2 linked regions of the Homo sapiens genome follow. Each later gene encodes a partner of the first gene's protein in a complex. Each region holds a gene or a part of one and is shown on either strand. Other genes may lie near its edges. A codon is read from its position in the direction of its gene.

Region 1 (7,612 bases):
AGAAAGGCCAGAGATCTGCATTTTTGGGGTAGCATCTCTTAATTTTGGAACTACTGTCAAGAGCATTAGTCAGGGTTCTTTGTTGCCAATGACACAATCCACTCTAGGTAGTTTAAGCAGAAGTATTTTAATAGGGTGGTGAATTGTGGTCCCTCTTCCCTGCACCAAATCATATGTTGAAGCCCTAACCCTCAATGTAACTGTATCTGGAGACAGGATCTTTAGGAGGTAATTAAGGTTAGATGATGTCTTAAGGGTGGGGGCCTAATCCAATAGGACTACGGCCTTATAAGAAGAGGATGAGAGAGAAGAAGAGAGAGAGAGAGTGATAGATCTTTCTCTCTCTCTACCATGTGAGGACACAACAAGAAGGTGGCCATCTGCAAGCCAGGAAGAGAGCCCTCATCAGAACCCAGAACCTGACCATGCTGGCATCCCAATTTCAGAATTCCAGTTTCCAGAATAGTGAGAAAATAAATTTCTTTTTTCTTTTTTTTTTTGAGATGGAGTCTCGCACTGTCACCTGGGCTGGAGTGCAGTGGCGTGATCTTGGCTCACTGCAACCTCCACCTCCTGGGTTCAAGCGATTCCCCTGCCTTAGCCTCCTGAGTAGTTGGGATTACAGGTGCCCGCCACATGCCCAGCTAATTTTTTTTTCTTTTTGTATTTTTAGTAGAAACAGGGTTTCACCATGTTGGCCAGGCTGGTCTTGAACTCCTGACCTTGTAATCCACCTGCCTCGGCTTCCCAAAGTGTTGGGATTACAGGCACGAGCCACCACGCCCAGCGAGAAAATAAATTTCTGTTGTTTAAGCCACCCAGTATTTTGTTATGGCAGCCACTAAGACAGGTGGTTGAAAACTCTGTAGAATCTCCAGGAGGACAAGAGAGCCAGGTTCTGTCTGTGCAGCCAGAAATGACTCCCAAACCAGCTGTGGGGCTGCCCCTGTGAACACGTGACATGCCTTTCACCGTGGACACCAAGCTTACACAGGGGTGGAGCACCTGGAAGCAGATGGCTTGGCTGCCAGGCTCACTATCAGATAGATTCCTCCCTTTTGTTGTTCACTTCCTGGCAGAAATCTCATGTGATCTTCTAATGGCACAGCCTAGATCACATGTGACCTGTTTGCAAGGAAGATTCTGGAAAAGTGCTTTGGCTTCTCTGAGGGAAAGGTGGAACTCATAATGTGAGGCATTTTCCAAACATAGGAAGAGTATGCATTTGTGTGCTGCTTACAGCCCTGCCCATTGATGACATCTGCCCCATGGGCTACTTTCATTGTTTAAACTTCCACTTCTTCTGAGAACAACTAGAAAAACAAGATTAAATCATCATCATCGTCACCATCTGTTAAAAGACATTCAGAGAACTGCTGAAATAACCAGGACTAAAGGGGCCAAGATTCTGGAGACAGGAACACCGTGGTGAGGTGAGCTGATGTTCTGCAGCCGATTTTTCCCTGGGGATATTTGCACATTTGGGCACAGGGAAAGAGGCCGAGGTTCTAGACTCTTCCCAGGCATGAAGGCTGCTTTGGGGGAACAGAGAAACTGACAAAACTTTTAGCAACCTCATGGGGCTAGAAAGACAAAACTGGGGACTTGAGAGGCCATTATCCCAGGGAGAAGACAGGGGCAGAAAAGTGAGCCTGATAGATGGTGGTTTCCCCTCGAGGTATTTGGCAAAGTTTGAAATAGTGCAGGGCAAGAAGCAAAGAAGCCAAGCAGAAGGTCCCTCAAAAACAGAGCCGTTCCCACAGTCTCGCCATGCTGTGGAGATAAGGGTTAGAGCTCAGGACCAGAGAGAGGGGCCTTAGTGAACACCCAAGGTTCCTAGCTGGAACCCTGGAAAGGCACAGCATTAGAGGTAGGGAACAGAGTGAAGTGGTGTCTTATCAAAACTATAACCTGGTCTCCACCCAGCTCAGCCCCTGATTGGATTAAGATAATTGATCTGTATGCCATTTGTCTTGCAGAGAAAGGGTGCGTCCTCTCCAGAGTTAGATATTATCACCTGGAGACTGTACATTTTTTCAACGTCTGACATTCAATAAGAATTACAAGGCCTGCCAAGAGACAGGACCATATCACTGAAAATAAAGGGAAAAATAGTCAATAGAAAGAGACCCACAGGTGATCAAGCTTTTGGAGTTAGACAAATGCTTTAAAATAACCATAATTAACATGTTTAAGAAAAATGAAAAGTTGGAGAAAATAGATGAAAAGAGATAATTTTACCAGAGAATCGGATTTCATAAACTTCATCGTCCAAAAGATTGAGAACATAGAGAACTTACTTCACCTGCTCATTGACAGATGTTGAAAATACTGACTCAGTTCTGTATAGCTATAAATCCCATGGCTTACAGTATTGTTTTTCTTTCTTTGTGTTTTTTTTTTTTTTTTTTTTTTGAGACAGAGTTTTGCTCTTGTTGCTCAGGCTGGAGTGCAATGGCACAATCTCAGCTCACTGCAACCTCCGCCTCCTGGGTTCAAGCGATTTTCCTGCCTGGGAGTAGCTGGAATTACAGGCGCCTGCCACCATGCCAGGCTAATTATTTGTATTTTTAGTAGGGACAGGGTTTCACCATGTTGGCCAGGCAGTCTCAAACTCCTGAGCTCAGGCTATTCACCCGCTTCAGCCTCCCAAATTGCTGGGATTACAGGTGGGAGCCACCACACCGGGTCAGCTGGCAGTCTTAAAAAAAAAAAAAAGTGTGTTGAGGGAGAGCATCAGGAAAAATAGCTAATGCATGCTGGGCTTAATACCTAGGTGATGGGTTGATAGGTGCAGCAAACCATCATGGCACACGTTTACCTATGTAACAAACCTGCACATCCTGCACATTTACCCCAGAACTTAAAAATAAAGGTTGTCATTCAACGTGGCCACCACTGGCTCCTGTTCGCTCTGCTTTTCAAGTGGCTTCATTTAAGAGTGACATATTATACCATGTGTTCTGAGTATCACGTCTTACTCAGTCCTCAGCACAGGGCTCTGTTCACCTAAAGAAAGAGGTGCCTTTTGCTAATCATTCTAAATACATCTGTTGGGCAATGTGTGTTGGGAATACTATTAGATAAGGTGGTTAGGGAGATGAGGCCTCTCTGAGATGATATTTGAGTTAACAGTGACAAGAAGAAACCCACCAGGAGAGGATTAGGGTGAAGCATGTTCTGAGCACTGTGGACATAGAGTACAAAGATTTAATCAAGAGTCAGCAAACTTTTCTGTAAAGTGCCAGACAGTAAATCTTTCAGGTGTTGTGAACCACCGGTCTCAGCTGCAGCTACTCAACTCTGCTTTACAACGCAGGAGTAACCACAGACAATAAACAGATGGGTGGTGGTACTCCAATAAAACTTTACTTGTGGACACTGAGATGTGAATTTCACATAACTTTCACGTGTCACAAAATGTTATTTTCATTTTTTTCCAACCATTTTATTTACATTTTTAATTTTTGAATTTTTAGTAGCGACAGGGTCTTGCTATGTTGTTGCCCAGGTTGGTCCCAAACTCCTGGCCTCAAGCGAGCCTCCTGACTGCCTCCCAAAGTTCTGGGGATTACAGGCATGAGCCACCTCACCAGGCTTCCAAAAATTTCAAAAGGTAAAAACCATCTTAACTGTGGAGCCATCGTTTGCTGATATAACGTCAGTTAGGTATGCTGGGGTCAGGCCACACAGACACTTGTAGGACATGGGAATACTCAGAATAAGGCAAAGGCCCTTTTCCTCGCCAAATGGAAAGCCATCAGGGCGGGCCAGGCTACCAAGTCTAGGAGGCAGCTTCCTGAAATTCACGGAAGATCATCAGGTTCGCTTTATTTTTTCCCCAGTAACAAGAAAGGACAAACGAACAAAAAAGGCACACACACACAAACACACACCCAAAGGACAAACGAACAAAAAAGGCAAACACACACACACACACACACCACCCCCGAGCTAAAGACAGACGGGATGTGCCCAGGTTCACGCCGACGCCTCTCCGGCGCGCACCGAGGGTTTTAAAGTTGGGCGCACACCTGCTCCCAGCCGGAGCGCACCTGCTGAGCAGCACTCCGGCCCGGTCTCGCGAGAGCGGTGCAGGAGTAGTGGCCCCCACCCGCTCCCCGCCACCAAATCCCTCTCCCCGCCCCCTCGCCCAGCCTCCAGGCTCGGGCACACTCCCGGCCTCCCCCGCCGCCCCCGGGAGCAGGCTGGGCCCGATGCGCGCGCTGTCTCCGCGCCCCCGCCCGCCGATCGCTCGCTTGCTCGCTCGCACGCACTCCCGGTAGTAATTTCACTTTGCCACGCGAGCTCCGCAGCCCCTAGAAATCCCGCCCCCCGGCCAGGTGCGCGAGTCTGCGCGCTCCTCCTCCGCCTCCTCCGACGGGTCCCTGGCGCGCCGGGGCCGGGGCCCGGCTGGGGCGGCTGCGCGCACGGCGCCTCTCCACCAACCCGCTCCCCTGCAGGTCCCTCGCTTGGTCTCCATCCCTCTCCGGCGCTCCCTCGCTCCCCCCCGCCCTTTGATTGACAGGCAAGATGTCGGTGTGGAGCGAGGCAGGAGCGATTGCAGCAACCGTCACCCCCGGAGCCCGGCGGCGGCAGCAGCAGCAGCAGCAGCAGCGCGGGGAGGAGACAGCAGCCAGCCGCAGTAGCCGCCGCAGCCGCGGGAGCAATGCAGACAGCACCTTGAGAACGCGCTAAAGCACTCCAAACCGTGGACCATGCCGTGTCCCTGCAACTGGGAGGGGGGAAAACCAGATTTTTTTTGACATAAAAGCAAGCCAGCCAAAAATATATAATTTTGTCCTTCAAGGAGCCGGTGTGTAAAGAGTGAGCGCTATTTTCCTTCTCCTCCTCCTCCTCTCCCTCCTCCTCCTCTCCCTCCTCCTCTCTCTCCTCCTTCTCCTCTTCTTTTTCCTCCTCCTCCTCCTCCCTAAGTGTACAGACAGCATCACATCACCTGGTTTGCTTCTGAGAAACAGCATCTCTCCTTTTCAGGGACCAGAGACTCAGAGAGAGAGGAGACATTCTAATGGAGTCCGCTTGATATCCCAAAATAAAATAATAAATTTTGGCTCTTGTCCCCTCCTCCCACTCCCACCCCCTCAACCCTGTGTGAGATGTTGGATTTCTTCTTCATGAGACATTGTTGAGAAGTCGCAGTGGTTGGAGAGGCGGAGGGTAGACTACCTCTACTCCCCCCCCTCTTTTTTCTCTCTGGGAGGAGGAGGAGGGGAAGGGGGTTGCAGAGCAAGCGATGGATGAGGAAAACATGACGAAAAGCGAGGAGCAGCAGCCTCTGAGTTTGCAAAAAGCCTTACAGCAGTGCGAACTGGTCCAAAACATGATAGACTTGAGCATCTCCAACCTGGAAGGGCTTAGGACCAAATGTGCTACCTCCAACGACCTCACACAAAAAGAAATCCGGACCCTGGAGGTAGGTGTTGCCTACGGGAAAAAAAAAAAAAAAAAAAAAAAAAAAAGCAATCCTTCTTTCCCCCTCCTTTCTCCCCACGGTCCCCTTTCCCTCTGATTCTGTTTATTGGGGGCTGGGGGTGGTGGTGTGGGCAAGCAAGGTGGGCACGGTTTGCTTTTCTGTGATTTCTCTCCTTGCAAAGCCTGCATTGGATATCCTTTTACTGTGCTGCTGTCGTCTGCGCTTGGCTGGGTGGTGGTAGTAGTAGTAGTAATTGTTATTCTTTATTTATTATTATTGTTGCGGCTGTTACCGTTGTCATTCGCTTCCTCGCTGAGGAGGGAGTTCTCTCTTTTTTCCGCTTGTGGATTTGTTTATATGCCACGGGGGCTTGTGTGCCGGGTAATACATTAAGGAGCTGCAGAGAACCCACGTGACCTTGCGCATTCTGCAGGTGGTCAAAAGGTGGTTTTTGCTCACAGAATGGGGCCGCCTGTCAGTGTAGACCTCTTCTTCTCTTGGCCTTCTTCCCCTCCCTCCTTTTGCTCCTTAGATTTTTTGTTTTAAATCAGTGATATACATGTCAGGAGGCAAGATGCATGAAAAAAAAAATTCCTATGGAACTACCCATTTCCAATCCAATCGTTTTGATGCAGTGAGCTGTTGCAGGCCTAAAACGTACAAAAGGGAAAAAAAAATATGCCTCAATCAGCACACATAGGTGGTGTGGGAGAATACTCCTGAATCTCAGTGGGACTGTGAGGAAAGAGGAAAGGGGTCGGGGAGGAGGAGTTATCTTTGGCTTCTTGTGACATTCTCTCCGGCAGAACTTGAGGGGGAGTTTGAAACAGTTTTTTGGGGGAGTGGGATGGGATGAAGGGTGGTTGCAAAGTTACTCAGAAAGAAGATGGCAGAAATTATTTTTTTCTGAAGGCCATTTGGTCAAAGGAGGAAGGTTTAAAGAGGCTTAGGAAATGCCAAATGCCTGGTGTCCACGAGATCACTGGACATCTGCATTGTTCAAAATGTTTGAAGGGTTCAGCTCACTTCCTTCTCCCAAACCAACCCAGCTATACGCATGGGTTGATTAAATTTGGGAACTTCCATTAGCTGGCATCCGCCGAGGGTGGGGGCAGTGGGGCTGAGAGAACAGGGGTTCCCTCTGTGGTGGAGTGGGCATGAGCAGTACTGAGACGTTCATCTTGGTCCTGGCACATGAGTTCCCAAGGCCTGAACTCGTCAGTCCGTAGTGAATCTTGTGGCCCTCCTGCCCCTGTTGTAGCCTGGATGGGTGCTTTTCTCGGATTCGCTTTGGGTATTTCTTTTTTTTCCGTGATTTTTAAATTTGGCTGGATGTCAACATGCAGGAGGTCATCCCTTTGAAAGAAGAGAGAGAGAGAGAGGGAGGGAGAAAGAGAGGGAGGGAGAGAGAGAAAGAGAGAGACAGCATGTGTGTGTGTGTGTGTGTGTGTGCGTGCGCGTGTGAGAGAGAGAGAGAGAGAACATGCTGTTTGCTACCCTAGGATGCATGTCTGTGTGCACCTGTCATCTGGAAATGTGATCCTCAGAGATGAAATAAGATCAATGTCAAGGTGTATCGGGAGAGTGGGAATTGTGTTGGGAGGCACAGGTATTGCCTTTCCTGGAGCTTGGGAGAGCAGGTGAGGCCGGAGCTCTGTTGCTGGAAGAAAAAGTGTGGGATGTTCTGATCCAGCCTTCTGTCTCTGCCTGAACAGTGCCCAAGAGCAGACTCTTCAGACCTGCATGCAGTCAATAAATAACCCCAAAAAAGCCACCTGAGCTCTCTTCTGTTCCTCTGAATCAGGAGTCCCAAATGCTAGTTTGTGTATTCCTGTGTAAGTTTCTTCGAAGTTTTCTTTTTTTTTGTTTCAAACATGCTCCATCCTCTGATAGCTTCCTGGATGGGGATGTGCCGCAGTGGGCATTGCCTTCTTTCTGCCTAGTGGTTTTCCTTTTAAACTGGGGGGATGGAGGCACTGGTAGGATGGCTATGGGGGAGTTGCAGTTGTAGGAAATGCATCTGTTTTCAGTTCCCTTGTCCCAGTATGCTACAGAGCATGCAACCACTTTCATCCATCTTGCCCAGGGAATGCTCTTGAGCAATTATTCCAATTTGTATTTCCCAGATTTGCAGGGTTAGGGAGGGCCCCTGCAGAGGGGCTGGTAACTTAGGGTCCA
Region 2 (7,000 bases), on another chromosome or scaffold:
TTCAGTTCCCACTTACTAGTGAGAACATGCGGTATTTGGTTTTGTATACCTGCGTTAGTTTGCTGAGAATAATGACCTCCAGCTCCACCCATGTTCCCGCAAAGGACGTGATCTCGTTCCTTTTTATGTCTGCATAGTATTCCATGATATATAGAGGAGAAATCTGAAATGTGGCAAGGTTAAGTGACTTGTCCATGGTCACACAGCTGGTTGATGAACAATTTGTGATAAGAATCCAGGACTCTTGAATACTAGTGATTTGTCAACACGATTCCATCTCCAGTCCTCATCCATACACACCTGCCATTAGGAAAGTCTTTACCACCCCAGCCTATAGTCTTTGTCATTTCTCTCACTGGCCAGCTTCTGAAAGTACAGGTCAGAAGCCAGTTCATTAGCTGGTAGGGTGGGTGGTTAAACGGCAAGGCATAGGAGGTAGAGGAGGGAGAAAGGAAGCACAAAGCTCAGGCTTAGTTTTTCCTCCAGAAGGTGTAAGAATTACTTATTTCAAAGAGTCAGAAAAGTGAACAGAGTCAGCATTCCCTTTTCCTTTGCAAATTGATTGAATTTCTATGGCGAGTATTAGCTGCAAGGCAGTGTTAATCTGCTCCAGCAGATCCATCATCAGATTGATGTGCAGGGGAGACAGGATTGTCTCTGGTGCAAAGGCCTTTTTGTGTAGGGCACACCATCTTTATGTATGATTGAGGCCTGGTGTGTTAAATGCCTCACACTGGGATCTTACCCATGTTTGTCAGTTGCCTCCCTTGAAAGTATTGAGCTTTTTGAAGATAATATAGCATCATGGTTAAGGTAAGACATTCGTTCTCTCTGCCTGAATTTGAAACGTGGCTGTGCCACTTACCAGCTCTTTGACCTTTGACATCTTAGTTCACCTGTCTGTGCTTGAGTTTGCTCATCTGTTCTAATTAGGGGTTGTGGATTAAATGACTTAATAAATGTAAAGCACTGAGGAGAGTTACACAGTGTTGTGAGGAAAGCAGTTTTTCTTCCATGCAGCCCTCCTTCCATTCCCCCATCATGCACAGTGTGTGTGTGTGTGTGTGTGTGTGTGTGTGTGTGTGTGTGTTGACAGCTTTTCGAATCTGCATTTCTAGCTGGCCTGCTGAGCCTGTCAGGCAGCTGTAACCTCACTCAGGTTTTAGCTGTGGGGTCCATCTACATTTGACATGTGTTTCTAAATGTGGTCCTCAGTAAGCTCCTTTGTGGGGAGACCTTGGAGAAAGGAAACCAGAGAGTGTGCACTGTGCACCCCCAGCCACACATGTTCTGGGTTCCCACACCTTAGGGACTGGGGACACTGCAAGACATAGCCGAACCTTGGATGAAAATATTGAGTAGCTGCCTCAGTTTGCTTGGACTGCTATGATAACATATCATAGACTAAGTAGCTTAGACAACAATAGTTTATTTTCCCACTGTTCTGGAGGCTGAAAGTCTAAGAGCAGGGTGCCAGCATGGTTGGGTTTTGGCAAGAGCCCTCTTCCTGGCTTGCAGATAGCTGCCTTCCTACTGTGTGCTTGCATGGCCTTTCTTTGATGTGTGCAGCAGGTGGGGTGGGGGGAAAATCAGTGAGGAAAATCAGTAACCTCGGCCTTGCATCTTCTTTGGTCCCATGCATGATGTTATTTGTAAGGCAGTGTCAGATCTCCTCATACATGGAGAGGCATTAAGTCTTCATTTCCCTGTCTTCTAGAGGTTTGGGATAGAGGGTGTGAAGGAAGAGCAGATTATGCTTACTCTATCTTTTAAGCTCAGAACTGGGGTGTGTGTGTTGGCAGGAACACCAACATGATGATGTATAATGAAGGCCTATCTTGTCACCTGTGTCACTTCAGCCACCCCACACAATTGTCACTGACATGCTTCACCTCCCGGGACTTCAATTTGAAACCCAATGAAATCCAGTGAAACACAGTGGAAACTCTTACCACCTTCCTGTTAACCAACTCACAGGAGTGATGAACACTTTTCAGTTCCCTGGATGAAACACTCTTGAGCAATGCCCACAGCATGCTGAATGCACTGCAGGCAGGCTGCTCTCTGCCATACCCACTCGCTTCAGCACCCACTGGCTGAATTATGTGCTTACCAAGAGCCAGCTTGTTCCCAAACCCATTTGTTCAGCTGTAGCTGGTATTGTAGTTAAGTAATGTATTTAGGTATCAGATAAACTGATGAAATGTAGCTGCAAATGAAGTGATTTTTTTCCCCTATGAACACTAGTTAAAAGCTGTGGAAAGACTTATAAGTCCAAGTCACTAAAACACATTACTGTCAAACTAGATGAACATTAAGATTGGGGGAAATCATAAAACTCTAGAATTTTATATTGTGATTACTCTGCAAGTAATCACAATATAACTTTAACCAGCTTTAACAAATCAGGAATAGGAAATTGTCGACAATGTATTATGTTCTGGTCCATGTGCGAAGGATGATGTGGACCTCTTAACCAGTGGGTCCTCTTTGGACCCTTATTCAAAGAGTCTTGCCCTATGTTAAAGAATGGGCGAATGAATGCAGATTTATATACATTGAGTAAAAATAAGAATTTTAGATATGTAATTTTTATGATTTTTTGCTGTGACTTTTTTGATTAACCTGGTTCCTGGACCTGATTACATTGAAAATGAGGATTTCTACTGTTGTGATTCAGTTTAAAGTTGGTTTGATTTCATTTTAGTGAATTTAGGGTATTTTATTTTGCGTATGGTAAAAACAATAAAACCAACAGTAGTGGGGCTTTTTAAACTGGGGTTTTAAAGCAAATTAAGGTGGCTCATTCTGGATTTTAGTAGGTTCTTTTGTTCCTCTCATTGACTTGCAGCATACTGAGTGAGAAAGACCTAATTTTTTCACTTTATAAATGAGGAAATTGAAGCCCTGAGAGGTAAAGCATGTTGGTGATAGTCATCCCGGGTGGCTGGAGTGAAGTGGGCAGAGCCACAGTGGGAGGGGGCCTCCTCTCTAGCCTCCCACTTTGATTATCTGTCTGGCCCCAGACCTGGAGCTTTCTTTCCATGATAGGAGTACTTCTTTGGGTTGACTTCTCTGGTGACAGTATTGACTTGTGCTCCCCACTTTGGAACAGGACCAACTTGGAGGCCTTGCAGAAGAAGCTGGAGGAGCTAGAGCTTGATGAGCAGCAGCGAAAGCGCCTTGAGGCCTTTCTTACCCAGAAGCAGAAGGTGGGAGAACTGAAGGATGACGACTTTGAGAAGATCAGTGAGCTGGGGGCTGGCAATGGCGGTGTGGTGTTCAAGGTCTCCCACAAGCCTTCTGGCCTGGTCATGGCCAGAAAGGTGAGTTTGCCTTGATTAACAGGTAATTGGATTATTTCTCAGGGTACTTAGAAGCCTGGGGACCAGGGTAGAAGGAAGACTGATTTTACTCAATACCTTTTTGTGCTGTTTGAATTTTTTTTTTTTTTTAAGACGGAGTTTCATTCTTGTTGCCCAGGCTGGTGTGCAACCTCCATCTCCTGGGTTCAAACGATTCTCCTGCCTCAGCCTCCTGAGTAGCTGGGATTACAGGCATGCGCCACCATGCATGGCTAATTTTTTTGTATTTTTAGTAGAGACAGGGTTTCTCCATGTTGGTCAAGCTGATCTCGAACTCCTGACCTCAGGTGATACGCCCGCCTCAGCCCCACAAAGTGCTGGGATTACAGGTGTGAGCCACTGTGCCCAGCCGTGCTGTTTGAATTTTGAATGCTTGTTATCTATATTAGATTATGGATAAACACACTAATGACTGTGTTAGTGTATTAATCCCCATCCCATCTGGAAAATAATAAGTGACTCTTTTTTAGCCTTCTGTGTGCTGTGGAAGGAATGCCAGGATACCTGTTTATTACTTATCAAGTGCTGGAGAAGCTGCTTTCATTCACCCAGCCCCAGCGATGCACAAAACAAGGATTTCAAGTTGTTTCCCTCTTGTGCTCCAGCCCTGCCAGTGAATCCCCTTTATCTTCCTGCATTATAGCATCTGAACTCCTATCATAGCATGTACTTGTAGAGCTGGACTTCCCTTTCCTATCTACCCTTGGTCCTCTTTTGGAATACAGCCCCTTGCTCCAGAGAGGTTGGGCTCTTCAATGTTTTTTTGCACATGGTGTTCACTCCTGTGCCCATAATTTTTTTGTGTGCTGTTGCTTCTGTCTTTTCAAACAGTGCCCATTTTCTAGGTCCACCTCTTGTCTAGCTTTTACCAGGTGCCCCAGCCCACACTGGTAACCACTGCATCCATGTTCTCTGACACTCGCTGTCTGTGGGATTTTTTTAGAAGTTCAACCTTACTACGTAACTATTTAATGTGACTGTCACTTGTCTCCCCAGCTGGAACAAGGGAAAATGTTAGGATGACATAAGGTAGCACCTTAGACTTTGGCTTAGTCTCAACCACATCAGGCTCCTGAGCTCAAGGAAGAATCTTTTGGGCAGCCTAGGTTAGCATACCTGAGTTCCTCATACCCTTCTACTTTCACAACTCTTGAGTGTGAACCAAGTCCTCAAGGTCAATTTCTTTTCATATCTGAGCTCCAAAGCCTCTCTTGGAGTAAGCCCTCCCTTAACTTTGTTCCTGTCTAGGCTCCCAGGAGCCGAGGCACAGCTGGAACAGCCTCCAGTGCCAATGCCTGCCTTAGTACAATGACACTCATTTCTTGGTTGAGCAGAAACTTGTTTGTAACAACTTAACCTGTTTCTCCTCCCTCTACCTTAAAGAGCTTAAACATTTAACAAGACTATATCTTTCATCCCTTCCTCCCTCTTTCTTTCATAAAACCTCTCTTTCTTCCACCTTTCTCCAGCTAATTCATCTGGAGATCAAACCCGCAATCCGGAACCAGATCATAAGGGAGCTGCAGGTTCTGCATGAGTGCAACTCTCCGTACATCGTGGGCTTCTATGGTGCGTTCTACAGCGATGGCGAGATCAGTATCTGCATGGAGCACATGGTATGTGACACCCTCTCAGCCTCTGGAGCAATGGCCTTAAGAGTTGGGTGGCTCTGGCCTAATCTTTGGTCTGGGAGGTGACCAGCTACCTCCCTGCTGCTCCTGGGATCCACATCACTATCTGGGGCATCTGGGAAGTCTAACTGTAGAGCTTGGGATATTCACAAGATGGCAGGCCTCCTTTCTAGGTCCTTGCCTCTCTTGAAGGAAGTGGGCAGTATTCCTGGTGGGTGTACCTAGAGCACCTCTCATAGTTTTTTTGATTCTGATTACCCTAAGATGTGATGTAAGTAAAATCTGGTAAATACAGTTTAAATCCATTTCTTGTGTACAATGCTGTATGCTAGGTGCAAGGCTCTGGAGTTAAAAAGATGACATAATCTACTGTAAGGGCAGCCTGAAGGGTTTCTCTGGGTTTCTGTATGATGCACGTTAGTGGAAGGAGAGGGCAATGGAGAGAGAGGGCATTCATGGGCTAATTAATCATATGCATGTTAGCTGCCAATCATTTTACCACTATGTTCTTGGAGTCCCTCCTTTTCTTCAGATATAAGTCTTCCAACACACTGTGCAACTTAGGGAATTCTGCAAGTATTAGTCTTTGCTTTATTCTCCCTGGGCTGATGGCTTAGAGATGAGGGCTGACGTGAGTCTGCACACTTGGTGGCTGTTGTGCTTTCAGTCCAGTATTGTGTCTCTCAGCTCCTACCCCATTTTATTCCTGATACTTGAGACCTGCCCTGACCTTTAGAATAGGGATCCTGGTGTGCAGCCTTAATGAACTTTAGAAGAACCCTCCTGGGAGGATTCTCTACTTGTGCCTCCATTATTTTGAACCTCTCTTCATTGTAATGATCACGAAGTGCTGCATCCACTGTTATAGGCATCTGCTGACATTTGTGGGTGCCATATGGAACCTAAATCCTAAAAACGTCTTCTGCACATCTAAAGGTTAGAGAAAGTGCTTGTTCCTTCTTTCCTCAATGAGAGCAGAGCATTCTCTGTGGGAAGCATATGAACATTTCTGGCTTGGTCCTAGTGCTTGGCCTGGGGTGCTGATTATTTTCTGCTTGGGTCTTGGCTTCCCCTCAGGGAGCTGTTTCTTATCCCTTGGGTCTCTTGTGTTCTTTTTTTTTTTTTTTTAATTTATTTTTATTTTTTAGGGTGATGAAGGGTTTTTTTCCCCTTTCTTTTTTTTTCTTTTTGTTTTTTTAGACAGAGTCTCGCCCTGTCACCCAGGCTGGAGTGCAGTGGCGCGATGTCGGCTCACTGCAACCTCCACCTCCCAGGTTCAAGTGATTCCCCTGCCTCAGCTTCCAGAGTAGCTGGGATTACAGGTGCGCACCACCACGCCCCGCTAATTTTTTTCTATCATTACTAGAGATGGGGTTTCACCATGTTGGCCAGGCTGGTCTCGAACTCCTGACCTCATGATCTGCCCGCCTCGGCCTCCCAAAGTGCTGGGATTACAGGCATGAGCCACCGTGCCCAACCAATCTTTTTATTTTTCTTACATTGACCTCTTTTGAGATACTAGGAGGCTTCTTCATTTACATTGACCTTTTTTGAGATGCTAGGTGGCATCCTTATTCTGGAATTCTTTATTCACTTTGAACTTACAGATGTTGATCACATCTCTTGTGCCCTTGCCATGTCCTCCCCTTCCTTCAAGCCTTCCTCCTCCTTCAGGAGAAAATGACACTGGAAATGACTGGAGTTGGTTTCCCATTCTCTTAGCCCATTTCCAGTGACTGCAGGTCAGTTTTTCCCCCCATGGATTTGGCTCTCTGGAAATAGTGAGATGTTCCTGCACAAGTCTCTGGAGTTATCGTGGAGAGCATGAGACTGGGAGGGGAAAATGTTTCAAGGGCCAAGCACAGTGTCTGGCACCTGTTAGGTGGTATGTGTTGAGTGACTGAATGAGAGTGGCCAGGATGGGGAAGACCTGGTCAGGCTTGGGACTCGATGGGGGAGGGTTAGGCCTTGGAGCCTGCCATAGGACCTTTTGGCCCTGGGTGT

What was found. Proteins that work in one complex are often made in the same cells at the same time.
Region 2: the proteins of KSR2 (region 1) and MAP2K1 are in contact, whole or in part, in a crystal structure (PDB 7UMB), measured with the Homo sapiens proteins. Residues at the interface, in NP_775869.4 of Homo sapiens: Lys674, Arg818, Asp820, Lys821, Leu822, Arg823, Ile824, Gln825, Asn826, Ile837, Arg838, Gln839, Leu840, Ser841, Pro842, Gln877, Pro878, Ala879, Glu880, Ala881, Ile883, Trp884, Gln885, Gly887, Thr888, Met890; in NP_002746.1 of Homo sapiens: Val81 (codon at 3,276), Glu102 (codon at 4,847), Met219, Ala220, Asn221, Ser222, Phe223, Val224, Gly225, Thr226, Arg227, Ser228, Met230, Arg234, Leu235, Gln236, Gly237, Met308, Ala309, Ile310, Phe311, Glu312, Leu314, Asp315, Val318, Asn319.

The regions. Positions count from the first base shown.
Region 1 is NC_000012.12:117,965,898-117,973,509, reverse strand, and holds the start of KSR2 (kinase suppressor of Ras 2), read left to right. Parts: upstream 1-4,519; 5' UTR 4,520-5,254; coding exon 5,255-5,434; intron 5,435-7,612. UniProt on the Homo sapiens protein: Location-regulated scaffold connecting MEK to RAF. Has very low protein kinase activity and can phosphorylate MAP2K1 at several Ser and Thr residues with very low efficiency (in vitro).
Region 2 is NC_000015.10:66,431,912-66,438,911, forward strand, and holds part of MAP2K1 (dual specificity mitogen-activated protein kinase kinase 1), read left to right. Parts: intron 1-3,115; coding exon 3,116-3,326; intron 3,327-4,834; coding exon 4,835-4,981; intron 4,982-7,000. UniProt on the Homo sapiens protein: Dual specificity protein kinase which acts as an essential component of the MAP kinase signal transduction pathway.